Linked DNA regions of Homo sapiens. The protein of the gene in region 4 interacts with the protein of the main gene of each other region in a pairwise test. Each region holds a gene or a part of one and is shown on either strand. Other genes may lie near its edges. The genes, in order: SP2, BTBD2, CFAP161 and CINP.

Region 1 (7,026 bases), on a different chromosome or scaffold from region 4:
TGTTTGTTTTTTTTTTAAGAGATGGGGTCTTGCTATGTTGCCCAGGCAGGAGTGTTTTGGCTATTCACAGGTGTGATAATAGGGCACTGCAGCCTCAAATTCCTGGCCTCAAGTGATCCTTCCATCTCAGCCTTCCAAGCAGAATGCATCCTGAGCCTTTTTGTCTCTTTTAGTCTTTAAAGTAATACCCCTCTTATTTCTGTACTTACTGAAATCTGCTTTCCAGAGGTCCAGGATTGAAGTCTGACTCTGCCTGGTGTTCTTTTCCTTAGTGATTTATGCACTTTAAGATGGTATAGATTCTTTCTCCTAAAATTCTCATGACTTTCGTTTTCCTGATACTGTGTTTCTTTCTTTTTAAAAAATTTTTATTAGGGACGGGGTCTAACTGTGTTGCTTAGGCTGGTCTTGAACTCCTGGGTTCAAGCGATCTTCCCACCTCGGCTTCCCAAAGTGTTAGGATTACATGCATGAGCTACTGTACCTAGCCTCTTTTGGATGACTTAAGTGCACAGTAGAGAGTCCCTTCATTACTTCCTCAACCTTATTTTTCTTTATTTAAGAAAAAAAGTACAGTAGAATATATTTATCATGGGAAAATGAAAAAGTACAGAAAACCAAGGTGCAAAATAAGTTTAAGTCAAACAAAACTCAACCGCTAGGAGATAATGGCTTAAGACTTTTTCCTATTTGATTATATTCATATATAGAAATATATACACATTTAAACAAAAATAGAATTTACTCTGTTTTCATTCTCCTTGTTATATCCAGTTAGTCATTAGCTCTACTGAGTCTTGGTTGATGCCTGTGGGGCCGTGCCTATTGTACTATGTAAAAGCGTAAATTCAAGTAAAGAATTGACCCATGAGGCCAGGGATGGTGGCTCACGCCTGTAATCCCAACACTTTGGGAGACTGAGGCAGGTGGATCACCTGAGGTCAGGAGTTTGAGAACAGCCTGACCAACATGGTGAAACCCTGTCTCTACTAAAAATACAAAAATTAGCTGGGCATGGTGGTACATGCCTGTAATCCTAGCTACTCAGGAGGCTGAGACAGGAGAATCACTTGAACCTGGGAGGTGGAGGTTGCAATGAGCCAGGATCGTGCCATTGCACTCCAGCCTGGGCAACAAGAGTGAAACTCCTTCTCAAAAAAAAAAAAAAAGAATTGACCCATGTGCTGTATATGCTGCCTGGGGACAACGGCCTTTGTGGTGAAGGCTGAGCATAAAACACCCAAGACTTGGCAGTGGAGCAGGTGTGTCCTCCTTGTCAGAAATCTTGGCTGAGCGATACTTCCCTCCCAGTTTTGGCATCTGTCTACAGCAGGAGTGAACAGGAGGCTTGAGTTTGAGCTAGAGGATTAGCTGGGGAGCTCCCCCCTGCCCACCATAGAGGAGTTCCAGTTTAGCTATGGAGAGCCAGCAGTGCCCAGCAGAGAGGGCATAGCTGAGTTACAGAAGAGAGTCCTGGTATAATCTTGGTTATTTTTGTGTTATCTCAGACTCTGTGGTGGCTGGAGGGGGCAGTCCAACGACAGCAGGACCAGCTGTCCTCACAGCCTCAGATGGCTGAGTCTGAGGAGAGGAGAGGAGAAAGTAATCTACTGAAATAGATGTAAGGCTATCAACCCAGGGTGGGTAAGTCTGGGGAAAAGTCATTAACTTCCCTTGGAGAAGCAGCAACAAATAGAGGCAAAAAGAAAATCTGGCTGGGTGCAATGGCTTATGTCTGTAATCCCAGCACTTTGGGAAGCCAAGGCGGGTGGATCACCTGAAGACAGGAATTCGAGATCAGTCTGGACAACATTGTGAAACCTCTGTCTCTACTAAAAATACAAAAATTAGCTGGGCATGGTGGCAGCGCCTGTAATCCCAGCTACTCAGAAGGCTGAGGCAGGAGAATTGCTTGAACTTGGAAGGGGGAGGTTGCCGTGAGCCTAGATCATGCCACTACACTCCAGCCTGGGCAACAAGAGCAAAAATTCCGTCTCAAAAAAAAAAAAATAGAAAAAAAGAAAATCTGAGGCAAGTGGGCTTGCGTTCTTTTTGGGCATTTTATACATTACTCCATCTCTTTTCTTCCAACAGATCCACAGACCAGCATGGCTGCCACTGCTGCTGTGAGTCCCAGTGACTACCTGCAGCCTGCCGCCTCCACCACCCAGGCGAGTAGGCAGTGGGCTCCGAGGGCTTGGGGCTGCAGCATCCTGGACAGACTCACCGAAAACACTCTCTCTTCACTGTCTCACTATAAATACCCTAGGTTATGAGACTGGGGAAGGTTCAGTTAGCCACATTTTCTTTACTGAGAAACTATGGCCATTTACCTAAGGTGCCGCAGTTGGGCCAGGGGGAAAAACAAGGATTAAACTCTGTGTTCCTTCCACCAGACCTCACTAAAAAAGGAAAAGGAAAACAGAGGCTTTCTCATTGTCTCGAAAGTGTAGCCCTCCCCAGTCTATAAAGTTACATGTTCCGAGTACTAAAAAGCACTTTACTGAAGTATTTATTCCTCCTGTTGCCCCTCCATTTTTTCCTCCCTCCTTTCCTCAGTTGAGCAATCAGGGACCCCTCAGTCCCTGGGGTGGGCTAACAAACTCCATCTGAGAGCCAAACATGCTTCACTGTCCTTAGAAACAAGGCCAGCGGAGAGTAGGAAGTCAGCTCGTGCTGTTAGTTTACCCTGTCTGTGGGGTGCTGCCAGGGGTTCCTTCCTGAGAAAGACATTGCCCACCTTTTCTCCCTCACTTAATGGAGAAACCAGTAGAGAAGGGGAGACAGCAGCCAAGCAGGGGAGGGTACTGGCAACATGCCTGCCCCGGAGGTGGGGAAGACTGGCGTGGAATGCCGCCAGGAGGAGAGGATCATGGACAGAGGCGGCCGGGCAGCGGGCCTTCCTGTCTCACTCCTTTTCTCTGCTGTTTTTTTGCAGGACTCCCAGCCATCTCCCTTAGCCCTGCTTGCTGCAACATGTAGCAAAATTGGCCCTCCAGCAGTTGAAGCTGCTGTGACACCTCCTGCTCCCCCACAGCCCACACCGCGGAAACTTGTCCCTATCAAACCTGCCCCTCTCCCTCTCAGCCCCGGCAAGAATAGCTTTGGAATCTTGTCCTCCAAAGGAAATATACTTCAGATTCAGGGGTCACAACTGAGCGCCTCCTATCCTGGAGGGCAGCTGGTGTTCGCTATCCAGAATCCCACCATGATCAACAAAGGGACCCGATCAAATGCCAATATCCAGTACCAGGCGGTCCCTCAGATTCAGGCAAGCAATTCCCAAACCATCCAAGTACAGCCCAATCTCACCAACCAGATCCAGATCATCCCTGGCACCAACCAAGCCATCATCACCCCCTCACCGTCCAGTCACAAGCCTGTCCCCATCAAGCCAGCCCCCATCCAGAAGTCGAGTACGACCACCACCCCCGTGCAGAGCGGGGCCAATGTGGTGAAGCTGACAGGTGGGGGCGGCAATGTGACGCTCACTCTGCCCGTCAACAACCTTGTGAACGCCAGTGACACCGGGGCCCCTACTCAGCTCCTCACTGAAAGCCCCCCAACCCCGCTGTCTAAGACTAACAAGAAAGCAAGGAAGAAGAGCCTTCCTGCCTCCCAGCCCCCTGTGGCTGTGGCTGAGCAGGTGGAGACGGTGCTGATCGAGACCACCGCGGACAACATCATCCAGGCAGGAAATAACCTGCTCATTGTTCAGAGCCCTGGTGGGGGCCAGCCAGCTGTGGTCCAGCAGGTCCAGGTGGTGCCCCCCAAGGCCGAGCAGCAGCAGGTGGTACAGATCCCCCAGCAGGCTCTGCGGGTGGTGCAGGCGGCATCTGCCACCCTCCCCACTGTACCCCAGAAGCCCTCCCAGAACTTTCAGATCCAGGCAGCTGAGCCGACACCTACTCAGGTACCACACTCCCTGTACTGTCCTCCTTCTCCTCCTCTGGTTATCTCTTTTTGGCTTGCTTTGAAGATGATGCTGGTCATCTCCCAGCTTGATCTGACCTTGAGAGTCAGTATCTTTTGGGGTGGGCAGTAAGTGGCCGTTTCTACCTGACAAATGGGCTCTCTTTAGTTCATAGGGCCAAGTACTTCTTATCTTTAGAAATTGATGAAACATAGGGATATTTTGGCACCTTTTCCTTATAGGTTGTTTTTTTTCAGGGGATGGTGAGGGGATAGATACATACTTGTTAATAACTTATTTTTGATTATAGAATTACTCAAAACATTAGCAAGAATGAAAACATTCCAGTTCATAGAATTTTATGTAAAGTAAGAAAATTAATGAGAAAAATGCTGATCATTATTAATGACAAGAAAAAAACAGGAAGAGCAGCCTAGCTTTATAGCAGGAATATTTAGGCTAGATTCATCTGGAATGTTTGTTTGTTTTAGGGTGTTTTTTTTTTTTTTGAGATAGGGTCATACTCTGTTGTCCGGGCTGGAGTGCAGTGATGCGGTCACTACAGTCTTAATCTCCTGGGCTCAAGCAATCCTCCCACCTCAGCCTGAGTAGCCAGGACTACAGGTGTATGTCACCATGCCAGGCTGAGCCACTGCTTCCTGCCAAACTGGGATGCTGAATTCAACAAGAATGTTCTTATTTTTGGCATTTATTAATGTGCTCTAATACTCTGGAATCTCTTTGGCTCTGTGAGGCAAGTTTTATTCTTTGTTCATGCCTGCTAAGTGCCAGTAATTGTGCCCATGTTGCAGATGGATAACCCAGAACTCAGATAATTTATGAAGTATCCAAGATCAAATAGGGCATAAATGACAGGAACCAGGAGTCAATTGAGATTTGTAACTTCAGACCCCACACTCTTCCATCTTCCACCTTGACTCTTGTGTCTTATGTGTAGCAGGTGCTACCATTAAAATTGAGGAGTTTTTTTTTTTTTAATATAAAAAACAGTTCCTGCCATCGAGGAATGTATGACCTAGTTGTCTATAGAGGAAGAACCGAATGACTGAGAGTGGGAAGTTGTGTAATTTCCTGGGTGGAGAAGAGAGCCTTTGAATTTGAACTGTGGACATAGAAATCACACAGGAATTCACCCTTCTGGCATATTTAATGTTGCCAGGTATTTTTTATAAGTCATTTATCACAATATCTGTGAATTCCCATGATCAGACCTACCCTACAGGTGATATTTTATGTTGCCAGGTGATTTTTTATAAGTCATCTATCACAAATATCTGTGAATTCCCATGATCAGACCTACCTTACAGGTGAAGAATTGTGGCACCTGCTCAGGAGCACATCCTCGGCATTGCCTCCCCTCCCTTCCATGAGGTCCCATTTCTTGAGGTTGATGGAGACAGGACTAAAACCCAGGTCTTCCCTAAGGAAATAATGATACATATGCAGAAAGATTTAGCTACAGTATTATTTTTTCATGACTACACAGCTTTATAACATCCCAACATGCTGATTATTATACAACTGATACCTTGTTAACTGTATATATCTAGGCTGTTTCCAATCTTACAGCTAAATAAATCCCTGAAAGTGGGTCAAGGACACGTACATTTTTAAAAAATTTGTATTCTATATTAGAGGTTTGCAGTCTGTGACCAACTTTGAAGCCAAATCTAGCCCACCTGCCTGTTTTTGTAAATAAAGTTTAATTGGAGTGCAGACACGTCCATTTGTGTTGCCCTTGCACTACAGTAGTAGCACAGTTAAGTAGCAGAGACAATATGCCCCGCAAAGCTAAAATATTTACTCTCCGGCCCTTTATAAAAAAAGCTTGCTGAACCTTCAGATGCAAATACACACACACACATGCATGCACGCATACACACACACACACAAAATCAGACATAAAATATCAGTGATTTGAAAAAGGGGCACATATCAGAAAACTGGGAATGAGATTTGCATATTTACTAAGAAATGGGCCAGGTGAGGTAGTTTATGCCTGTAATCCCAGCACTTTGGGAGGCTGAGGCTAGAGATTGCTTGAGCCCAGGAATTCAAGACCAGCCTGGGCAAGATAGCAAGACCCCATCTCTACAAAAAAATTAAAAATTAGTGAGGCATGGTGCTACACACCTGTAGTCCCAGCTATTCAGGAGGCTGAGGTGGGAGGATCACTTGAACCCATGAGTTCGAGATTGCAGTGAACTATGATCATTCTACTGCATTTTAGCCTGGGTGACAGAGACCCTGTCTCTATTTAAAAAAAAAAAATTTTTTTTAAAGAGATGAGATGTTTGTTAGCTTTTAAGTGAGAAGAAGCACAGTCATAAATAATCCAGGAATTAAAAATTACCCAAATCAAAATCACAACAGGATTTTTTTTTTACAAAGAACTTTTTTCCTTTTGACTCATTTGAGTGTAAATTGCCACCATGATCCCCCTTGTCATTTCTGAACGCTTTAATTCCTACACACAAGAACATTCTACATTACCACAATACAATCGTCAAACCCAGGAAATTAGCAGTGAAACACACTGCTAATTCCAAGACCCCACTGTGTTTTCACCACTTGCCCCACTAATTCCTTTGTGGCAAAAGGATCTGATCCAATATTACACATTACGTTTAGTTGTCTCCTTAGTCTCTTTTGATCTGAAACACTTTGTCATTCCTTTTTTTTTTTTTTTTTTTTTTCTGTTTTTTTGAGACAGGGTCTCGTTCTGTCACCAGGCTGGAGTGCAGTGGCAATCTTGGCTCACTGCAACCTCCAACTCCTGGGTTCAAGCGATTCTCCTGTTTCAGCCTCCCAAGTTGCTGGGATTACAGGCGCGTGCCACCACGCCCGGCTAATTTTTTTTGTATTTTTAGTAGAGACAGGGTTTCACCGTGTTGGCCAGGATGACTTCCTCATTCTTTACTTGACCATCATGACCTTGACACTTTTGAAGGCTAAAGGTCAACTTTGGCCATTGGCAGCTCTTTCAGGTCGGCTCTTTTTTTCTCTTTGGCCATTGGCAGCTCTTTTCAGGTCGGCTCTCTGCAACCTCCGCCTCCCGGGTTCAAGCGATTCTCCTGCCTCAGCCTCCCGAA
Region 2 (6,793 bases), on a different chromosome or scaffold from region 4:
CCTGAACTCCTGACCTCAGGTGATCCACCCGCCCGGCCTCCCAAGGTGCTGTAATGACGTGTGAGCCACCACGCGGCCTTGCTGCCGGGTTTCTTGATGTCTTGCCCTGCACGTGTGCTCCTGAGGCAGCAGCCAACGGCTTGACTTCTCTGGCCACTGAGGCCACAACTGGGCACTCCCTGCTTTCTCTCCATCTCTCACATCCACGGTCCCCCAGCAGCCAGCAGGGCCTCCCCACGGGGAAATCGGCACACACGTCCATTGCATTTGGGTTTGGGGGGAGGTGTTGAGTTAGTTAGGGTCTTGCTCTTGCCCAGGGGGGAGGGCAGTGGTGCATCACTGCTCACTGCAGTCTCGACCTCCCGGGCTTCAGTGTGGCCTGTGGGTACTTAAGGAGGGTCTCGCAGCACTGGCGACCAGACCCGGGGTTCAGGGCCCCTCTCGGCGCACGACATCCCTCGCCCACTGCAGCCCGGATGACAGGGCAGAGAGTGAAGGGGAGCAAAGCAGTGTGCGCTCAAGGCAGGTGCATTTGTTTCTTTATTTAAAAAAATCATCTGGGGGCATGGTCTGAGGAGGACACCCCTCCCATGGCTTTGGGGAGGACGCAGGTTCCAGGAGTCACAGGGCAGAAACACGCGGGGTGGGTGGGGGCGTGGCCGGAGTGGGGAGGGGCTGTGCCCCCAGCACCTGGGGGTGGCTCCCACGGCACCAGGTGGGCTAGGGCAACAGTATGTACAGGCGAGCAGTGCTCCTGGACCCGGTCGGGGCCGGCTGGGGCCCCATTCTGCGGCAGGGGAGCTCTGGGGCACAGGGTCTGAGTCCCATCTTGGGCTGCAGGGACCGCGAGGGCCGTCCAGGGAGGCTGGACAGCGGGGGCCTTTATCTGGGCCCATCAGGTGGATGAGAACGGACACTGCAAACCGCTCACCACCTGGGCCAGGGCTAGGCCTATCCGGCAGGGGCCGTCCCCACACTGAATCCTGCGTGCGCAGAACTCAAGCCGGCATCCAGGCAGTGGGAACGCCCCGCAGGCTGGGCTTGGGTGGCCTCGGGCACGTGACAGGTGGGGCCCGTGTCCTGATAAACGGACAGGAACAAAAGGAACGCAAGGTCTGGGACCCACGGCTCTGGGAGCAGCGCCACCCAGGCTGGCTCCTAGCAGAGAAATGGGAATCGCAAATGCATTGCAATGTGCAGTGAAGAGACGCGAGGGACGCCCGCGGCGCACCGCCGGCAGACGACGTGGGCAGGCGCCCTGAGCTGCGGGTCCGTGGGCCCTGGCCCAGGCCGGCACAGCCCTGTCCCTAGTCCTGAGGGATTGTCTCCACAGGGCCTGGCCACTGGCCTGGCCACCTCCCCGGCTGCCCTGATCCAGCAGCCACACTCGTGGTGAACACAGGGCAACCCCGTCCTGATGCTGAGAAAGGTGGCATGGAGTGGACAGACGGCCTGGGGGACACTGGGCCTGGCACCGCGTGGTGGGGGGGCCCCAGCAGCAGATGATGGCCTGGGGCTGCGGCTATCCCCACGGAGGGAGGGCGGTGTCGGTGTCGGGCAGCCTAGGTGTAGAAGATGACCTCGGGGATCTGGCCGTCCTCCACGGATGTGCCATTGTTGTTCCCGGCCGCGTAGCAAAAGGTGAAGCAGGTCTTGGCGCCCGTGGTGGGCGACTCGTGTGTCACCTTGCGCAGGCCTTTGGTGCCGTAGTGGGAGTCTGGGCCCTGTAGGGAATAGGGGTACAGTGAGGTCAAGGACCACCAGGCTGGGATGCCCCAGGTGTGGACAGGGCAAGGCCCCGACTGGGCCAGGGTGGCTGCCTCTGGAGAGTGTGTGCTGTGCCCCGGTGGCTTCAGGATGGGCCAGAGACTCCCACGGAGGGACCCCTGTCCCCGGCGGCGCACCTTGAGCGTGGCACAGGCCGTGTAGTTGACGTTGGGCAGCACCTCCACCGGCTCCTTGAACATGACGCGGAAGGTGCTGGCTGAGCCGTCGCAGCTGAAGCCCGTGTCGTTCTGGCCCAAGACGGTGTTGCTATCGGTGTGAATAATCTGCGGGGAGGTGGGAAGTGGGAGGCTCAGGCCTGGGGAGGGCCAACGGGGACCCCTCGAGGCCCAGCCCACCTGCCCAGGGTGGGGGCAGCACAGGGACCAGGGCCGGGGGTTCAGCCAGGGTTCCATGGAGGTGGAGAGAGGACATGGGCCTGAGTGGGGCCTGGGGATGAGGCTTGGGGCTGGTACCTGGATGTTCACTTGGTAGTCGGTGGGCCCGTGGATGGATCCATACAGCCCAAATCCCACCACGAAGATGCGCTTGTTGACTGAGAACCTGCCGTGGCAGATGACAGGCAGCAGCGTGGATACCCAGGGATAGCCTAAGGTGAGCTGGGGCGAGCCCACCCCCATGCCCGGTCCCCTCCATCGTCCCTGAGTCCTCCACCCCCATGCCCGGCGGCCCCCCCGCCGTCTTCATCATCCCTGAGTTCTCCACCCCCATGCCCGGCCCCCCATCTCCGTCATCCCCGAGTCCTCCACCCCCATGTCCGGACCCCCCCGCCTGCACCCCAAGCCCCACCTGATGCGGTCACTGGTCCCGCTGTAGCCCCAGCGACTCTCCACCTGCTGGAAGCGGTTGATGCTGCACTCCTTCCCACGCAGGCAGCAGCGGGGCCGGTCAATGAACTCCACTCGTGGCTTGGGGTTGACGGTGAAGTGCAGGAAGAGGCTGACCACCTCGCGGTCCACCAGGATGCCCGACTGTGCGGGACCTGCAGCACAGGGAGGGTGTGGGGGAGGGCCGGGCTGCACCCCAGGATCCCGAGTGCCTGGGAGGACACGCTCCTTCCCCCTAAGATGTCTGCGTCGGACTTTCAAGGTGCAGGGACCTGGGCAGCCCCTCCCCGGGGGACTAGCCACCAGCCATGGCCCCTGCTGCCTGGGCTTTTAGGGAGAGGTCCCAGGGCACAGACCAGAGGCCGACAGATACGCTCACTCAGGGGCGATGCCTCAGGGTCTGACAGATGCACTCACTCAGGGGTGATGTCTCAGGGTCTGGCCCCACTGTAGGGACCACCCGTCACTTCACTGTGGGTGGGGGCGGGGGGCTCCACTGCCTGTTCTCTCAGGGCCATTGGCTGGGAGGGGTCACTGTGGCTCCCTGCTAGGCCTGTACCCCCCAGGCTGCAGCCCTGGCTTCTAGAAGCAGTCTGGGGGTTCCTCTCCACGGTGGGCCCTAGGCAGACACCTTCTCAAGCGCTTACACCCCCAGGGGTGATGGCTAGCGGACCCCAGGCAGACTCCAAGAGCCAGGCTCTTAATCCCGGTGCAGAGATGTCACAGGCAGAGGGACTGTGCATGGGATGTGAAGGGGCTCTGGGTAGGGAGGGGAGGCCAGGAGGGGCAGAATTGGGGGTCCACCATCCACCCCCAGGAGTGCCAGGACACAGCACCCTCTGCTCTAATGAGAGCAGCCCTGCCTGCCTGAGACCTAATCACTCATCAACCAAGGTGGGCTCAACTCCGCATCGCTCAGCTGCAAGCCAGCCCAGTGCAGACACAGTTTAATAACTGGTGAGAAACAGACCATTATGGGTTAAGTGAATCAGGAAGACTGAGTATCAAAACTCAATAAACAATGTTAACAATTTTTTTTTTTTTTGAGACGGAGTTTCGCTCTTGTCCCCCAGGCTAGAGTGCAGGACGGAGTTTCGCTCTTGTCCCCCAGGCTAGAGTGCAGTGGCGTAATCTCGGCTCACCGCAACATCCGTCTCCAGGGTTCAAGCAATTCTCCTGCCTCAGCCTCCAGCATAGCTGGGTTTACAGGCATGCGCCACCATGCCCAGCTAATCTTGTATTTTTAGTAGAGACGGGGTTTCACCCTGTTGGTCAGGCTGGTCTCAAACTCCTGACCTCAAGTGATTCCCCCCATCTTGGGCCTCCCAAAGTGCTGGGATTACAGGAGTGAGTGACCCAGCCTGGCCAACAATTGTATATATTTTTTTATTTTAAATGGAGTTTCACTCTTGTTGCCCAGGCTGGAGTGCAGTGGCGCGATCTCGGCTCATCACAACCTCCACCTCCTGGGTTCAAGTGATTCTCCTGCCTCAGCCTCCCGGGTAGCTGGGATTACAGGCATGAGCCACCACACCCAGCTGATCAACAGTTGTATTTTTAAGAAGTATGTATCTAGCCAGGCTCGGTGGCCCATGTCCATAATCCCAGCACTTTGTGAGGCCGAGATGGGAGGATGGCTGGAGCCCAGTTCATGACCAGCCCAGGTGACATAGCAAGACCCTGTCCCCACAAAAAAATACAAATATAAGCCTTGTGTGGTGGTGGCACCTGTGATCCCAGCTACTCCGGAGTCTGAAGCAGGAGGATCACTTGAGCCCAGGAGGTCGAGGCTGCAGTGAGCTGTGATTGTACCACCGCACTCAGCCTGGGCGACAGAGACCCTCTTGCTAAATCTGGCGACCTTCAGCTAAGCAAGAGCGGGGGCCGCGTGGACCTGGGGAAGGCCAGACGGCGAGTGTGCACCAGCCCCAGGGCTCTGTCCCAGCCCCTTCTGGAAAGTTCCAGGCCTGTTTTGCTCCAGAGCTGGATGGCGTCAGGCAGTGAGCAGCCACGAGGGCAGGAGGCATCGTTAGCGCTGCCCCTTCACGTCACCCTGGAACCCAGGCCCTGCAGCAGGGGACCCCAAGGCCCACTCGGGCGCATGACAGCCACCCCGGCCATGTCAGAGCCCTCCTGAGCTCGTCACAGACACTGGTACCTGCACCAGCAGGTAGCACAAGGGCGCGAGACGGGGACTCCCTTCCCTCCTGGGAAGATGCCACCAAAACAGCTGGACAGACACGAGAGGCGGGGTCTGGCAGTGTGCACGGTGGGGACAGAGCCGGGCCGGGGCTAACAGATGGCCCTGTGGACGCGTCCTCACAAGCCAGGTTTCTTCCTATCTGTATATGCCAGGCATCTGCCAGGCTTTCCGCAGTGAACTCGGGGGCACTATCCTCGGTACCCAGATGCCCACCTGTGTGCCACTCCCCTCCCAAACCAGCCCCTGAGCCCGAGCTCTGTTACCTGCAGCGAACTCCTCGATGGTCATGAGCGGGAAGCGAATGAGGCCCAGGGCCTTGCCCAGAACCTTCCGCCTGTTCTCTGGCGTCACCTGCAGCTGCTGCCGCTGACACTCGGCCTCGGACCAGCGGACAACGGCATTGAACAGCCGCACCTCACGGATGCCCAGTGTGTCGCGCTCCAGGACAGCCACCAGCGTGTCTGTGGGGTGGAGGAAGGGGCTGCGTGAACACGACACCCACATGCCCACCCTGCAGGAGGCAGTGAGACTAACGTGAGGACCAGCAGTTAAAGCCGGGCTGGCAACTATGGCCCGTGGCCCAAATCTGGCCCTGTGAGTGTGTTTATAAATAAAGCTTTATCAACACAAGACCACGCCCCTTCATTTTCCTCGGCTGTGGTTGTTTTTAAGCCACAAGGACAGACTTGAGTAGCTTTGACAAAAGCTGTTCAACAGCAAAGTCAAAGCCATGGACCATCGGAGGACGAGATGGTCACCATCAGCTGGGATGGTGGGCTCTGGCCTGTGGCCTCCTGGCCAAGGCCCCGGACTCCCGTGGGGCTGTGCTAGGACCCAAACTCCTGACCTGCTGCAAGTGGTGAGGCCCCAGCTCACCTGTGCAACTCCCCCAGGCCCAAAGCTCCCACTGTCAATCCCCGGACCCTCCCGCCGAGGCCCCGCTGGGATTCCCACACCTGGGCTCCTGGGCCCTTACCCAGGTCAATGTCGGTGAAGCCCTCCGCGGTGATGGCGTCTGCAGTGTTTTTGTCGATGTTCTCCAGGCACAGGCTGGCCAGCTGCGGTTCATCGAAGAGTCGCGCCTGGCAAGAGACATCGACGGGGGGCGCGGTGGGGACATCAGCACCCAGCCCTCGGCAGATCCCCAGTGCGGGGCCGGTTCAAATGCAGCCCTGACCACACGGGCCTTCCTGAGCGTGGCCAGGAGCCACCAGGGTCTCAGCCACCAGGCCGGCCCTGTTGTGGGCCCAGAGACTCCCCTGTGACCGCTGACTGGGGCGGGAGAGTTGGGGAGTTCCCTCTCAGGACCTCAGAGGCCAAGGAAGGAAGAAAAAGATGCTCAGGTCCCTGTCGGCAGGGCCTGCTGCTTTAGGCAAAAGGGGCGTTGCAGCTGCACTCGGGGGGCAGCAGGGCCCAGGACCCCGAGTGGCAGGCAGAGGTGAGGTGGCCGGGGCCGACCGGTGAAGCTTCCCGACCACAACATGCCCTTGGCCACTTGTGGTGGGAGGGGCCGTGTCCCCGGCAGCTCCATCCCAAGACAAACAGCAGACATGACTTCTGACAGTCAGGTGACAGAGCTGGAGGACGCCTGTGCTCTTAGGGAAACAGAGGCTTAGTTAGTGGAAGGTGCTGGAAGGGCCTATGCCAGCAGGGACCCGGGCAGGCCTTTCTGCGGGCATCCTCCCGAGGACACCTCTCAAGTGGGTTCGTAGTGGTTTTAGGGGCAGGGAGGCTGAGGCAGCCACAAGATGAAGCCCGGGGAGTGAGCTCCAGCCTCCTCTCAGCTCAGGCAGAGGCCTCTCCAGCAAGGCGACCAGATGACCCGGACAAGAAACCCCTCCCTGTGGGAGTCCGGGATGCCCTGCATCTGACCTGCCAGGATGGAGGGGGAGAAGGTTCTGGGTCCTTTCCAGGATGCCGGACCCCCAAAGCCCATTGGAGGACCCAGTGCCGCTGTCCCCTCTGGCCACCCTCCACC
Region 3 (7,026 bases), on a different chromosome or scaffold from region 4:
CTAATTCGTATGACAGCAATGTAAGCATTGCAAGAATATATGGACCCAGGCAAGGTACAGTGGCTCATGCCTGTAATCCCAATACTTTGGGAAGTCAAGGCAGGCAGATCACCTGAGGTCTGGAGTTCGAGACCAGCCTGGCCAACATGTCGAAACCCCATCTCTACAAAAAATACAAAAAATTAGCTGGGCGTGGTGGCAGGCTCCTGTAATTCCAGCTACTTGTGTCACTGAAGCATGAGAATCACTTGAACCTGGGAGGTGGAGGTTGCAGTGAGCCAAGATTGCACCACTGAACTCCAGCCTGGGGGAAAAAAAAGAATATATAGACAGTTCTTCAAGTTCTAATTTAGATTTCCTTTGAATACATATGTTAAGACAAGTAAAAATTGATCACAACCTCTGTTATCCTGAAGGATTAAGAGGGAACCGTATTAAATGTCTACAAATGTGTTACCTTGGTTCTCTCTGAACATGTCAATGCACTTGACCAGAATTCCTTAGTATACATTAGCAAGATGTGCTTAGTTTACTCTAACCAGAGGCTCACAAAGTGGGGATGCTTTGTGTGCTAGCTATGGTGCAGGGCAGGGAGTAGGGTGCTAGCTGGATTTTAAGACCAAAAGAAAACACCTTTTATTTAATTACCTAATTCAGTTACAGTATGTGAATATAAATTATCAAAAAACTGATTATAAACAAAATTGCATGCATAAAAAATAGAGTCATAGAATGATTCTAATACAGAGAGTTTACATTTACATTATACTTATTGTCCACTGACAGTGTACACAGAGATGCCACTGGTCAAGTCCTTAGATATGGGCAGGACTTTTGCCTGGGGATAACAGGAGGATTTGACAACAAAATGGTGAGTTATCACTTTGCATATCTACTTTGGATCAGTCATTTCTGTTGCCCAAAATGGGATCATAACTATCTACTGAAGTGGACAGAGAACTCCAGAGTCATGGGCTCCACCTCTGACTTCACTATGGTGTCAGCTTGCAGCTTTTCACAGGCAGTTTTGGGCCAAGCCAGTCTTTCCTTTTAACTTCCCAAATTACAAAAACTACACCCTTAAAACCTAAACAGTAAGGGAGGAAAACCATTTCACAATGCAGCTGGCAAAAAGCAAAAGTTTATACCACTTCCACCTGTAAATTAAATGATTGAATTCATTAATAACCATCTGATACCTGTCAAATGTTGCCAATGCTAGCAAGGCATATTATCTGACAACTTTTTTATTTAAACTTTTGATGATCAGACTTTTGCTTAGTATGGGAGTAGGGACAATATGAGATGCTTAAATTTGCATAAATCAGGGAGCCTTGGGGATTAGGAAGTATAATAGAACCAGATAGATTTGGGTTTGAATTTCAGGTGCGTACCTATGGGATGGGAATTTGGGTAAGTTATTTAATGCTTTTTGAGCCTGTTTCTCATCCATAAGATGGTGAGTATTAATCTACCTTACTACATGCCAGGCAGTGTTGTAAATGCTTCACATATTTCAACTCTCCTAATCCCCCAAACTTGCCTTTGAGGTAGGGACTATTTTACCTTTAATTTACTGATGGAAAAACTGAGGCACCAAGAGGTTAAGTGATTTCTGACTCAAGTCACTCAGTTAGCAAGTAGCAGAGCTAGTACTATATCACATTTTTTATTGAATTAAAAATCCATTTACTATATGATGTAGCGTTATTATTATTATTATTTTTGATACCACTAAGAAAACACAATGCTGCCTGCTGGGTGCAGCGGCTCATGCCTGTAATCTCAGCACTTTGGGAGACCAAGGCAAGAGGATCACTTGAGGCCAGGAGTTGTAGACCAGCTTTGGCAACATAGCGAGACCTCATCTCAACTAAAAATTTTAAAAAAATTGGCCAGGTATGGTGACGCGCTCCTGTAGTCCCACATACTCATGAGGCTGAGGTGGGAGGATTGCTTAAGCCGGAAGGTAGAAACTGTAGAGTTTGCACCACTGTACTCCAGCCTGGGTGACAGAAAGAGACCCTGTGTCAAAAAATAAAAATAAAAATAAAAAATAAAAAGAAGAAGAAACGATGCTACCAATTAAACTTTGACACCCCACAGATGGTAAGTTGCAGCCTGATAAATATTGACTTACTGAAAAAAGGGAGTAAATTACCATTTCTTAACCAGAGATTAGCACCATTAACATTTTGGTTTATTTTTACTTTCCTGTGTATTTTTTTAAAACTTAGATAAATATACAGATAGGTTATTCTTTCTAAAATAGCATTTTTAAAGCTTTTTAAAATGACGAAATCATTTAATGAGAGCATAAGATATAATTGTGTGGCGGTATCATAATTTACCTAGTCTTTCTTCTACTTTTGGGCAGTTGGGTTTGGTCCAATATTTCTCTTTTATATGTAAAGTTCCAGTGTGCATTTGTGTATAAATGCTTAAATCTTCCCCTCTCAAACTTCAAATTAGGAATTCTACCTTTAGGATAGATTTTTGGGCAATGAATTACTAAGTCAAAGAATATGAACACATTTAAAAGTATTGATACATATAAAGAGTTCTTTTTGTAATGGGGTGTACCAATTTGCACTCTCAGCAACAGTAAGAATGATCATATACTGCTTCATTAATTGTATTAAATATCATAATTTAAAACTTTGCTAATTTGACAAGCAAACAAAATGAAAAGAAAAAATGATATGTAAATGTTGTACTACTTGTAATTTCTCCTATATTTTAAGTTTGTTCTCTTTCCCTTATCTCTTCCTTTCTCTCTCGCTTCTTTTTTCTTTCTCCCTCCCTCTCCTCTCTCCTGCAAATCATCCGTTTTTTGCCTTTGTGTTGATTTGGGTTTATATACCATTGATTACTAAATTTTGTCATATGTGTTGCTAATATTTCCATTTGCTGCTTGGCTTTTAAATTGTAGTTGTTCTAATATTATATTTTTGAGTAAAATGTAATTCCTTCCATTGCTTTTATGTTTTTAAGACTGCTTCAGAGATCTGATAAAAAGAAAAACTAGAATTAGCTTCTAGATGTTTGCAATTTGACTTTTGCTTACATTTATTATTTAATCAACTTGGGATTTATTTTGATAAAGGGTTTTATGTGAACATCTCATTTTGTCCCAGATGACTGGTCAGTTATATCTATTATCCCTTGAATGATTATTCCTTTCTCTACAGGTGCATGACATTTCCCTTAGCATATATTAAATTACTGTATATACTACCCTGTGCTTCTGAGCTTTCTATTTTGATCCATTAAACCCTAGTTGTCTATTTCTTTTTTTTTCCTTTTTTTTTTGAGACAGGGTCTCACTCTGTCACTTAGGCTGGAGTACAGTGTCACGAACATGGTTCACTGCAGCTTCCACCTCCCAGGCTCAAGCAATTTTCCTGCCTCAGCCTCCTGAGTAGCTGGGACCACAGGTGCACACCATTATACCTGGCTAAGTTTTTAAAATTTATTTATTATTTATTTATTTATTTATTTTTGTAGAGACGGAGTTTCGCCATGTTGGCCAGGCTGGTCTTGAACTCCTGAGTTCAAGTGATCCTCCTGCCTCCACCTCCCAAAGTGCTGGGATTACAGGCGTGAGCCACTGCACCCAGCCCAGTTCTCTATTTTTATTCTAGGACTATAGTGTCTTAATTATTAGAGCTTTATGATAGGGCTCATAGCCCTGTGACCTTGACAGCTCATAGGGCTAGTTGCCTCTCATTACACTTCTTTGTCTGAATTATGTTAGGAATTAATTTCTCAGTTAAATATAATGGTTATTTTTTTCAAGTCCTTCTGCCCCTGTGGGGAAAAGATTACTTGGTATTATATTTTGATTGGCATTGTAAAATTAAGTAAATTCACATATTTAGTAACTTTGCCATATTTATTCTTCTGAGATGTCTCTCCATTTATTCTGTCAGCAAAATTTTCTATCACCCAGTAAGATTTTGTGGTTTTCTTTACATGGACTTGACAATGATTTTGTTAAGGGTTTTTCCTTGGTATCTTGTATTTTCAGATGCTATTGTAGAGAGGTCCTTTTGATAGAATAAGGATAGAACATTTGATAGAATAAAGGATAATTTCTCTTATAAAAATATAAGAAGGCTATTGATTTTTATATTCACCTTTGATGAGATCACTTACTCTTATTAATTCTATAGTTTTTTCAGTTGATTTTTTTATGTTTTCTGGGAAGACAGTCATTTAATCTTCAAATGATGACAATTTTCTCTCTTCCTCAATTCTTATACCTCGAATTTTGGTTTCTTGTCTTTGAATTAGCAAACCCTTCTGGGGCATTCATAGAAGCGTTGGTGAAATAGTGGCCTACTGGGTTAGTTCCTGATTTTATTATGGTTTTACTTTAGGTGAACAAGGCAGTTTGTGGTTTGAGACAGATAGTATTTGCCTTTTTTTTTTTTTTAAGTTGGTGTCTCACTCTGTTGCCTAGGCTGGAGGGCAGTGGTGTGATCTCGGCTCACTGCAGCCTCTGCCTCCCGGGTTCAAGCGATTCTCATGCCTCAGCTTCCTGCGTAGCTGGGATTACAGGCACCTGCCACCACACCTGGCTAAGTTTTGTATTTTTAGTAGAGACAGGGTTTCACCATGTTGGCCAGACTCTCTCGAACTCCTGACCTCAAGTGATCCTCCTGCCTGAGTCTCCCAAAGTGCTGGGATTACAGGCATGAGCCACTGTACCTGGCCTTATTTGCCTTTTTAAATTCTGGTTTTCTTGTTGCTCTGAAAGGCACCATCATCCAGGGCCAATGGCGAATCTATCTTGGGCCCATCTCCCTTCCCCACCCACGTCCAGCTGATTACCAGGTCTCTTCCGCTGTTCCTAGGCTCTTTTCTCCCTTCATACTGCACTTTGGCCTGTTTCTCTTGCCCCAGTGCAGCCCCTCAGCAACCCAGGCCCCATTGCTTTGCCCTTTTAGTCTATCCTGACTTCAGACCATACTAGACAGGGTGCTGCCAGGTTGATCTTTTTTTTTTAATTTTCATTTTAATTTTTAAAATTTATTATTATTATTATTTGTTTTTCAGGTTGATCTTTTACAAGCACAGGTCTGGTCACCCCCATCCTCACTGGAGTCAGCAGTGGCTCCCCATTGCCCTTTGAATGAAGTTCTGCCTGTTTGCTGTGGCATTTGAGGCCTTCTGTAATACATCCTCACCCTCTCTGTGTTCACCCCCTCTGGCTATCCAGCCTCCTCCTCAGAGCCTCTTTTGATCCCCCAGGAAAGCACCGTGCTCCTACCTCTGCCTCCCACAGCTCATTGCAAATCTGCTGGACCTCCCTAACCAGAAAGCTGCATGCAGGTGCTTCCCATTTTTGTGCTCAATCACCTCTTCTGCTAGGTGGAGAACCTCATGAGGATAGTAACTCATCTCTGCCTTCCCCATAGTGCCTCACAGCACAGCCTTGCATGGGAAAGGTGCTTATTGGAAACCTGTCAAAATATGCAGAAACTACCTCCACATTCAGGGCGGGGCTGAACCAGTGAAGAACTAGCAAAGGACTAACATTTTGGACTTTTCAGCAGGATGGGGGTTGTTTCCTGGCAAGGTTACAGGCAGCCAGATAGCCGACATAAATTTCCAGCATGGACATCAATTCCAGAGGGGTGTGGGTCACCTTGAAGGCTCACAAATGAATATCAGCTGTGAGGATATTGATTTGAAGAATAATTCATTTCACGTGATGAGTTTAATGCAACATCATTTATATTAAATAAAATATTAGTCCATGGCTGGGCATGGTCGTTCACACCTATAAACCCAGCACTTTGGGAGGCTGAGGTGGGAGGATTGCTTGAGACCAGGAGTTCAAGACCAGCTTGGGAAACAGTGGGATCCTAGCTCTACAACAAATAAAAAAAAATCAGCTGGGCATGGCAGTGTGCACCTGCAGTCCCAGCTACTCGGGAGGCTGAGGTGGGAGGATCACTTGAGCCCAGGAGTTGGAGGCTGCAGTGAACCATGATTGCCACTGCGCTCCAGCCTGGGCAACAGAATGAGACCCTGTCTCAAAACAAAACAAAACAAAACAAAACAAACCCATTGGTCCAGTTCCTATATCCTGAAGGGGAACAGGGGACAGGGAGTAGGAAGGAGAGAGGAAGATTGAGTTTGGTATTCAGAGGAAGGAAAAGTAGTTGGAGATGTGAGTGTGTGTAGGTGTGTGTGTGTGTCTTGGTCTCAGCATGCCAGATGGCATATCTAAGGTAGAGGAAAATTGTGCTTTCTCATACAATCAGTAAGAACAGAGTTTTTGAGAACTGCTTTGAATGTGCTTGCCGTCCAGCCAGTCAATTGCTTCTTTATTCTCCAGCTTTTCACAGAGCTCTGACTTAGTGCATCTGCTTGCTGTCATTTTCAGTTGTATTTGTCAAGTGACCACAGGACCCTCCTGAAATCGTCTAAGAGGTCTTGGCTCCAGGAAGTGTACCTAACAGATGAGGTCTCCCATGTGAACTGCTGGCAGGCTGCCTTCCCTGACCCCCAGTTACGCCTGGAATATGAAGGCTTCCCCGTCCCGGTGAGTGCAGCATCGGGAAGACATGGGTGTCTAGGCTATGAAATGGATGCAATTTATTCCTGTCTATAACACACAGACTTATAGCTCAAATGCCTTATGACTTTCTCTCTCTTTTCTGTCTTTTTTTTTCCATTTATAACACACAGACTTATAGCTCAAATGCCTTATGACTTTCTCTTTCTTTTCTGTCTCTTTTTTTCCATTTATAACACACAGACTTATAGCTCAAATGCCTTATGACTTTCTGTCTCTTTTCCGTTTGTAACACAAGTTTGGGAGGTACTAATCTACCCCATGGCAGCATCCTGCACTAGAGTTTCTCACCTCTGGCTGCACGTTAGAATCGCCTCAGGAACTTTCTAAAAAGCTCAGGCCCTGCCCCTGTCATCAGGATAAGAACCACTGATGTGCGATCATGAGCGTTGTGACACTGCTTCCTTCGCACTGTTTTCGCTAAGGCCTCCGCTAAG
Region 4 (7,303 bases):
GTGACTGTCTGCTAAAACTCTTCAATGGCTCACGTTCCCTTCCCTACAGGATAATCTAGCCCTGACTCCCGAGTACTTCCACTATCTAGTCTCAGGCACTCTGATACTTTAAATTTGCTCAGAGTAGCGTGGCCCATGAGTGCTAATCATTTCAAGACACTGAGACAACAGAGATGCAGAGTTGATCACGATGCTGCCACTGCCCTTCTTGGTAATCAGGAGGAAGTCCAAAATCCTTCCAGACCTAGCTACCCCTCCACATCATCACGTACATCAACCCACACCTTGGCCCCCCGTCAATATCCAGCGAAAATGAACTACTGGCAGCTCTTGAAAAGCTGAGGTGCCTGCAGGCCTTTACACGTGTTCTCTCTGCAGGAAAGCTCCTTCCTTCCTCAGGCTCACGATGCCCATCCTCCAAGATGCACCCGGATCCCACTGCCTGTAGGAAGCAACCCCCAGACCACCAAGAGCCAACTCAGGTTGTTTGTTCTCCCCGAACCCTCCTGTGCCCTCTTGCCTTCTCTACTTTGAACCCCACAAAGGCTTCTCACTGCCCACAGGATAAAGTCCTCTTGAGGAATCCAGGACACACAACAGCTGGATGGTTTGATGCCTCAAGTCAGAAGACCACACTGCCTGCGTCTGAACCCCAGCTCGCCAGCTGTGAGATCTTGGGCAACTTAATGTACCTTTCAGAGCCTCAACATTTTCATCTGTAAAATGGGAATAAAAATAGTATCTATTTCATAGGATTGCTGAGATTAGATAATATATGTGAAGCTGTGAGGCCTCGCACAAGGCAAAAACCCAGTATCTCACCTGTTAGCTCAAGGGCCTCTACTATCCAAGCTCTGCCCACCACTTCAGCTTCTACCCTTTCCCACTTGCCCTCTGTGCATCAGAGCTGGCTCTGTACAAGTTCTGACTTTGACCTGGAATATTTTTCCTATCTGTGTGTGTCCCCACTCCCCTGCCTCATACTTAGTATCCTCACTTTAAAATATCATCTTGATTTATCATTCATTCTTTACTTAAACAACAAATATTTGCTTACTGCCTACAATACGCCAGGCATGGGGGAATGAAGTGATTGAATGAGACGGACCAGGACCGTTTTCATGGAACTTACTTTCCAAAGGGGAGGCAGATAATAAACAAATGACCACGATCAGTTCAGATCATGATTAAGTGTGTGTGGAAAATAAAACAGGGTCTTGTGTTAGTGTGATCCCCTGAGAAGGTGTCGTTTAGGCTGAGATTTGAATGATGAAAAGCCAGAAATAGGGTAGGTCAGTAGTATGTGCCCTAATTATGATAATGAGGTTGGTGAGTTCAAAAAACAGAAAACAAAACAAAACAAACAAGCAAACAAAAAAACCAGTGTGCTGGAATGAAATAGACAGAAAAGGACTAGTGCGTGAGTAGGTGATCAGACAACTAGAACCTAATAGGCCAAGATAAGAAGTTGGACCGAGGGCAGTGGCTCACGCCTGTAATCCCAGCACTTCAGGAGGCCAAGGCGGGCGGATCACGAGGTCAGGAGATCGAGACCATCCTGGCTAACACAGTGAAACCTCATCTCTACTAAAAAAATACAAAAAATCAGCCGGGCGTGGTGGCGGGCGCCTGTAGTCCCAGCTACTCAGGAGGCTGAGGCAGGAGAATGGCGTGAACCCGGGAGGCGGAACTTGCAGTGAGCCCAGATCGCGCCACTGCACTCCAGCCTGGGTGACAGAGCGAGACTCCGTCTCAAAAACAAAACAAAACAAAACAAAACAAAACAAAATAAAAAAATGAAGTTTGGACTTCTAAGTATTAGCTTGGTGCAAAAGTAACAGATTTTGCCATTACTTTTAACAGCCAAAATTGCCATTACTTTTGCACCAACCTAATACAATGGGGAGTGAGCAATGAGCTCTGGATAGGGCAGTGAAATTATCTGATTTAGGTTTTTAGAAAGTCATTTCCACAGAGAAGTATTCCTGGATCCCCCAGGTTGGGTTACGACTCACCACTAGATATGTGGTACACCCTATAATTCTGCTATCATGATATTCACCAGTGGAGTGTATTTGCTTGTTTAATGTCTATATTCCCTGCTAAACTGGAAATTCGACTAGGGTAGGAACTATGTCTCGTTCTCTTTCAAACCTTCCACACATAGGAGGCTTTGCATAAAATGAGGTAAATGGAGGAATAGCTCTTACCACCTGTTCTATAATTGTCTAAGGGTTTTCCCCCCAACAGGAGATTCTGAGGGCAGGATCACATCTGATTCATGGTCAGCCTGACTCATACGGGGCACATATTTAGGAACCAAAAACATAACTGACTTCAAGAAACTCAAGGGCTGGTAAAGACAGACCAGTCATCAGCGTCACAGGACAGGGTAGGGTGAGGGCACAGTGGCTAAGTTACTTATCCCCTCTGAGCCTCGATTCCCCATCTGCAAAATGGGGTTGACATTACTTCATGGGACCACTGTGAGGTTCAAATGAGATGATCCACTTAAAGTGCTTGGAGCAGTACTCAGCAAACTGAGCACTAGGCGAAAGCCAGCTTTCATTACAAGCAGAATGTTCTGACTGAGGGCAGTTCAGAGAGGAGTTTCTGGACGAGATGAGCATGCAAGGCTTGGTACCCAGTGAACTCTGTTAGTACTAATTTATAGTGACAATAATTACAATTTGGATGTCGGATCTGCTGACACTCATTTGCGTATATCGTCCCGTTCATCTGTCACTGCACATGTGAAAAAACGGAGGCTCGGCAAAACTGTCTCCCGAGCAGCTCGCAGAGGCTGCGAGGGGCCTGCGGGCTAGGCTGGGGTAAGACAGAGGACCTCCATTTAACCTCATGTAATCCGGGGAGCTCCTGAGCTTCTGGTCCAACCTGCGGCCTAAGCAGTAACATTCACAGCCACCCCACCCCGGGAAAGGAACCGATCTCACGCACCTTCCATAAGGTCCACAGATATCCGTAGAAGGAGACGCGAAGCCCCGCCCACCCCACCGGAAACGCATTTGCGTCACGTCCGCCCCGCCCGCTGCCACTTGTGGCTCTGCCGCTCTAGCCCCCGGCGGAGCCAGCTGCTGCTCTTCGGTGCTGGCCCCGGTGCCGGCCCCGTTGCCCAGGGAACAGGCTCCCGGCAGCCCCCGCGGCCCGGAGTCCATCCCGCCTCCTCCGGCCCGGCGGGGCCGACGAGTCCGGAGGGGCTGCCGCGGGAGGTGAGTCCGGCGACGCCGCAAGCGGCCCCGACGCCCCCGACGCCCCCGACGCCTGGCCCCGAGCCCCTCCTCGGCCTCCCCCGGGCCACTCTTCCCTTGCCTCAGCCCCGCAGGGTCTCCATGCCCGTCCGCCCCGTCTCCCTCGCCCGCGGTCTCGCCCGCGCGGAGTGGCGGACACTAAATGCCACAACACACGGAGCGCCTGGCTCGCCGCCCGCAGAATCCGGCGGTCCGCAGCGGGGAACAGGGGCCGCCCGCCCCTCCTCAGGCCTCCGCTGCGCGTCCCGCGCCCTCGGCCCCCGGCCCCACCCTGCATCCCGGCTGCCGGTCTGGCCGCGGGCTCTGCTCCTTCGCCTTAAGATTGACGTCGTGTTCTGTCCCCCACTCGCAGCCCGCGTCCCTTACATCCGCCCACCGGCGCCTGGCCCCAGGCCTTGACACTCATCCAGTTGGTGTTCAGTGTTCGATGAGTGGATAAGTGAATGACTCCTTTCCCAATCCTATTTGAAGGCATGGGAGGCAGAATAGGTAGTAAGTGTTAAAGGATGGGGTGTCCTGGAGTCAGAGCCGGGCAGGTCCCAGCGGCCCCTTCCTAGCTCTGTGCTGGGGCAAGTGCCCTACCTCACTCCGCTCCAGTTTCATCACCAGTGGAATGGAGATGAGAATAGTTTCTACCTCTGGCTTGGTAAGAGGATTAAATGGGTCAGTGCATGTAAAGTTAAGCACGGTGCCTGCCGCTGTACATTTCAGTAAAGGGGAGCCCCTGCTGTCATCTGTGCTAGCCTGCGTTCTCGCCCTCTAGTCCCTTCTGATATGTCTCTGACTTCTCATGACTTTAGTTTCTCCTTCTCTACCTCCATTTCTCTTCCCTGCACTTTTTTCTTCCTCTCTTATTGGGATTCAGGAATTTTATTCTGTTCTGTGACTTATGTTCCATGTGTTGGCAGAATGTGGGATACCAGCCTGGGTGCATCCTTTTCTCATCTATTGGAGTGACCAGTTGCACTTGTGGACTGCCTCCTTGCAGCCAAGGTCTTGTAGACAGAGTTCTGGGAAATCTCAAAACGCAAATCCCAGGCATAGGTAGAATCTGGGAATGAAGCCACTGTAGCTCCTTGTGATCACCAGCGATTCCTGGTCTTTTAGGCTGCAGGACTTTGTGTTTTCTCACACCCAGCTATAATGTACCTTGATAAACCTCTGACCTTATTTTTGTTGTTGTTGTTGTTAACCTGACTTACGTCCCATATTGGTGGTTATTTGGCCATCGTGTGCCAGCACTGTGCCAGGCTGGCTCTAGGGATGCTGTGGTGAACCAGACAGACCCTTCCTGAGGTCACTGCCTCAGAAAGATCATGGTCTGGCCCATGAACTTTAAAAGGGAGAACTAAGTGCAGGTGTAGGGGACACACAAATTGAATTTTCAGGACTGCCTTGGAAAACCAGTGGTGGGGAAGATGGAATGAGGATAACCCTCTTCTGAAGGAGTGACTAGGAAGTAGCTTTTGTTAGGCATCAGCTATATTATACCCACGTGTCTTTTTCAATAGAAGACTGGCATCTACTGGATTTTTTTTTCCAATTTTTTCTTAAAGAAGTTACACTTAAGTTTGGGGAGAATTTCATTTCATATTAGCCGCTGTAGGAGTTGAAAAAAATGGCTACTGGAACTTAGTGGGAAGAAAAGGAAGGAAACAGGCATCAGGCAGAGGCAGTTGATTGAACTTGGGAAGATGAGGAATAGATCAGGAAAGGGTTATAATGAAAAGCTTTGGTGTCAAGCACGAAGAGATTTCTAGATTCAGTAATGCACAGAGAGATCAGTAAAATTAGAAGGGAGTAGTTGATGGCTTTGCGAATTGCTAAGGTAGAAGGGAGCTGTTACTCAAGATGCATGTTCAATTTAAAATGAATGTATTCTTTGGACCTGGACATAAGAGTTCTATTGACTTTTTGCCACTATTTTATATTTAGGGCTGTCATACTTGGGTGAATCTAGCACAGTGCTTTGAGAGAGAGATTCATTCAACAAACGTGTATTGAGCATTGATTGTACCATACTCTTTATTGGTCTTTTAAAGCACCACAAAGTATACAGACTAGAAGAACATAGGTGAAGATGAGAAAGAGTCCATTGAAGGGGAGAGAAAACAGATAATGATGGTGCTGTGCGATAACTGCCATCATGGAGTTCTGTGAAAGCAGAGAAAGACCAACCAAGTATCTGAGGGAATTTATGAAGGCTTCCTGGTGGCGGAGGACTAGTTCTTACAGGGCACATGTGGGGGAATAGGGAAGAGTGGAAAGGGACTTTGTTCTGCAGAGACATACAGGTTATGGTGTGTGCAGGGACTGTGATGGAAAGCTGATGGATGCACAAACAAAACGTGGCCTGTCTACACAATGGAAGGCTGTTCAGCAATAAAAAGGAACGAAGTACTGATTTGTGCTACAACATGGAGGAACCTTGAGAACATTAGGCTAAGTGAAAGCAACCAGACACAAAATACCACATATTATATGATTCAATTTTGATGAAATCTCCAGAATAGGCGAACTGTAGACAGAGAGGAGATCAGTGGTTGCCCAGGGCTGAGAGAAGAAGCGTGTAGAGGGGTGATTGCTAAAGGGTAGGGAGTGCACAGTGTGTGGATGGAAGAGTGGCCTGAGATGAAGTTAGATATAGACTGTTTTGTCATAGTGTCTAATTTCCATGCTTGTGTTAGGCTTTAGCTTGTGACCATTGGGTAGCCAATGGGGATGGGAGCAAGGAAGTGACAAAATTTTGTCTGGAAGATAAATGACTGCCTCAGTCTCATTACGTTCCTCCTTAATAATTTAATACTCAAATAATTAATAGATGTCGTAGCCAGATTTCAAACATAGATTCTACAATAGGGATACAAATTGTTGCTTCCTAGGGATTTTGGAGAGAATCCTGAAACCATTAGTGTACCCAGAGCACTCTGATAACATGGTTATTGTACAGCGAAGTGGATGACTTAGACTCTATATTAGTCCTAGCTCCAGTTTGAGAAATCATCCATCTGGGTGGCAGTTGGGTGTTAGTAGTCAGCAGTGAAGGCTAGCTGCCACCTTCCAGGGTTATGAGATTGACAGGGCTAGTGGGGAAAGGAAGCATCGTAACTTGAAGGATGCCATAGGGTGGTGTTTTGTATTTTTTTAACTGAAATAGTCATGACTAAGGAAGCATTATTCATTATATTTTTATTTATTTATTTATTTTTGAGATGAAATATCACTCTGTCACCCAGGCTGGAGTGCAGTGGCACGATCTTGGTTCACTGCAGCCTCCACCTCCCAGGTTCAAGTGATTCTCCTGCCTCAGCCTCCCAAGTAGCTGGGATTACAGGTGTGCGCCACCACACCTGGCTAATTTTTGTATTTTTTAGTAGAGATGGGTTTCGCCATGTTGGCCAGACTGGTCTCGAACTCCTGGCCTCAAGCAATCCTCCCACCTCGGCCTCCCAAAGTGCTGGGATTACAGGCGTGAGCCATCATGCCCAGCCCAATTTTAAAAATTGGATTGAGACTATTGTTTTGCAGTAAGACCTGAAGTTAACAAATCTTTACTGAGCATCTACTCTGTGCCAAAGCTATTATTAGATACTAGGATTTACCTTGGTAAGCAAGAGAGAATTCATGTTGCTTACATTCTTGTAGGAGAGATGATTTTTAAATGGTTTAGCAAATAAAGCAATTAGAGGTTGTAATGAGGATTATGAAGCACATATGATAGAGGAAAGAAGGGACAGTTGGGTACTCTTGAGTGATCTGGTCAGAGAAGGCCTTTCTGTGGTGGTGATATTTAAGCTGAGACCCCACAGTTGAGAAGAAGCCAGATAAATGGAGTGAGATCATTTATTCTGCATAGAGGAAATAATTATGACACCTGAGTGGGACAGAGTGGGTCAGTGGAGCTAGAACTTGGAGGACAAGTGGAGACGGGTAGAGAGGTGACAGGGGAGCTGCAAAGGGCTTAGACCACACGGGGCATTTGGTTTTTATTCTTAGAGCACTGGGCAACCAGTGAGGAGTTTTGAGTAGAATGG

The links.
Region 1: the proteins of CINP (region 4) and SP2 interact in binary tests that used the Homo sapiens proteins (3 or more experiments, as listed by UniProt).
Region 2: the proteins of CINP (region 4) and BTBD2 interact in binary tests that used the Homo sapiens proteins (3 or more experiments, as listed by UniProt).
Region 3: the proteins of CINP (region 4) and CFAP161 interact in binary tests that used the Homo sapiens proteins (3 or more experiments, as listed by UniProt).

Annotation. Positions count from the first base shown.
Region 1 is NC_000017.11:47,913,218-47,920,243, forward strand, and holds part of SP2 (transcription factor Sp2), read left to right. Parts: intron 1-1,508; exon of another isoform or gene 1,509-1,644; intron 1,645-2,094; coding exon 2,095-2,171; intron 2,172-2,938; coding exon 2,939-3,913; intron 3,914-5,234; exon of another isoform or gene 5,235-5,354; intron 5,355-7,026. UniProt on the Homo sapiens protein: Binds to GC box promoters elements and selectively activates mRNA synthesis from genes that contain functional recognition sites.
Region 2 is NC_000019.10:1,984,926-1,991,718, forward strand, and holds the end of BTBD2 (BTB/POZ domain-containing protein 2), read right to left. Parts: intron 5,898-6,793; coding exon 5,792-5,897; intron 5,446-5,791; exon of another isoform or gene 5,277-5,445; coding exon 5,079-5,276; exon of another isoform or gene 4,033-5,078; intron 3,570-4,032; exon of another isoform or gene 2,768-3,569; coding exon 2,575-2,767; intron 2,329-2,574; coding exon 2,241-2,328; intron 2,052-2,240; coding exon 1,905-2,051; intron 1,725-1,904; coding exon 1,563-1,724; 3' UTR 523-1,562; downstream 1-522.
Region 3 is NC_000015.10:81,137,265-81,144,290, forward strand, and holds part of CFAP161 (cilia- and flagella-associated protein 161), read left to right. Parts: intron 1-786; coding exon 787-871; intron 872-6,397; coding exon 6,398-6,556; intron 6,557-7,026. UniProt on the Homo sapiens protein: Microtubule inner protein (MIP) part of the dynein-decorated doublet microtubules (DMTs) in cilia axoneme, which is required for motile cilia beating.
Region 4 is NC_000014.9:102,359,887-102,367,189, forward strand, and holds the start of CINP (cyclin-dependent kinase 2-interacting protein), read right to left. Parts: upstream 3,005-7,303; 5' UTR 2,966-3,004; coding exon 2,959-2,965; intron 1-2,958. UniProt on the Homo sapiens protein: Component of the DNA replication complex, which interacts with two kinases, CDK2 and CDC7, thereby providing a functional and physical link between CDK2 and CDC7 during firing of the origins of replication.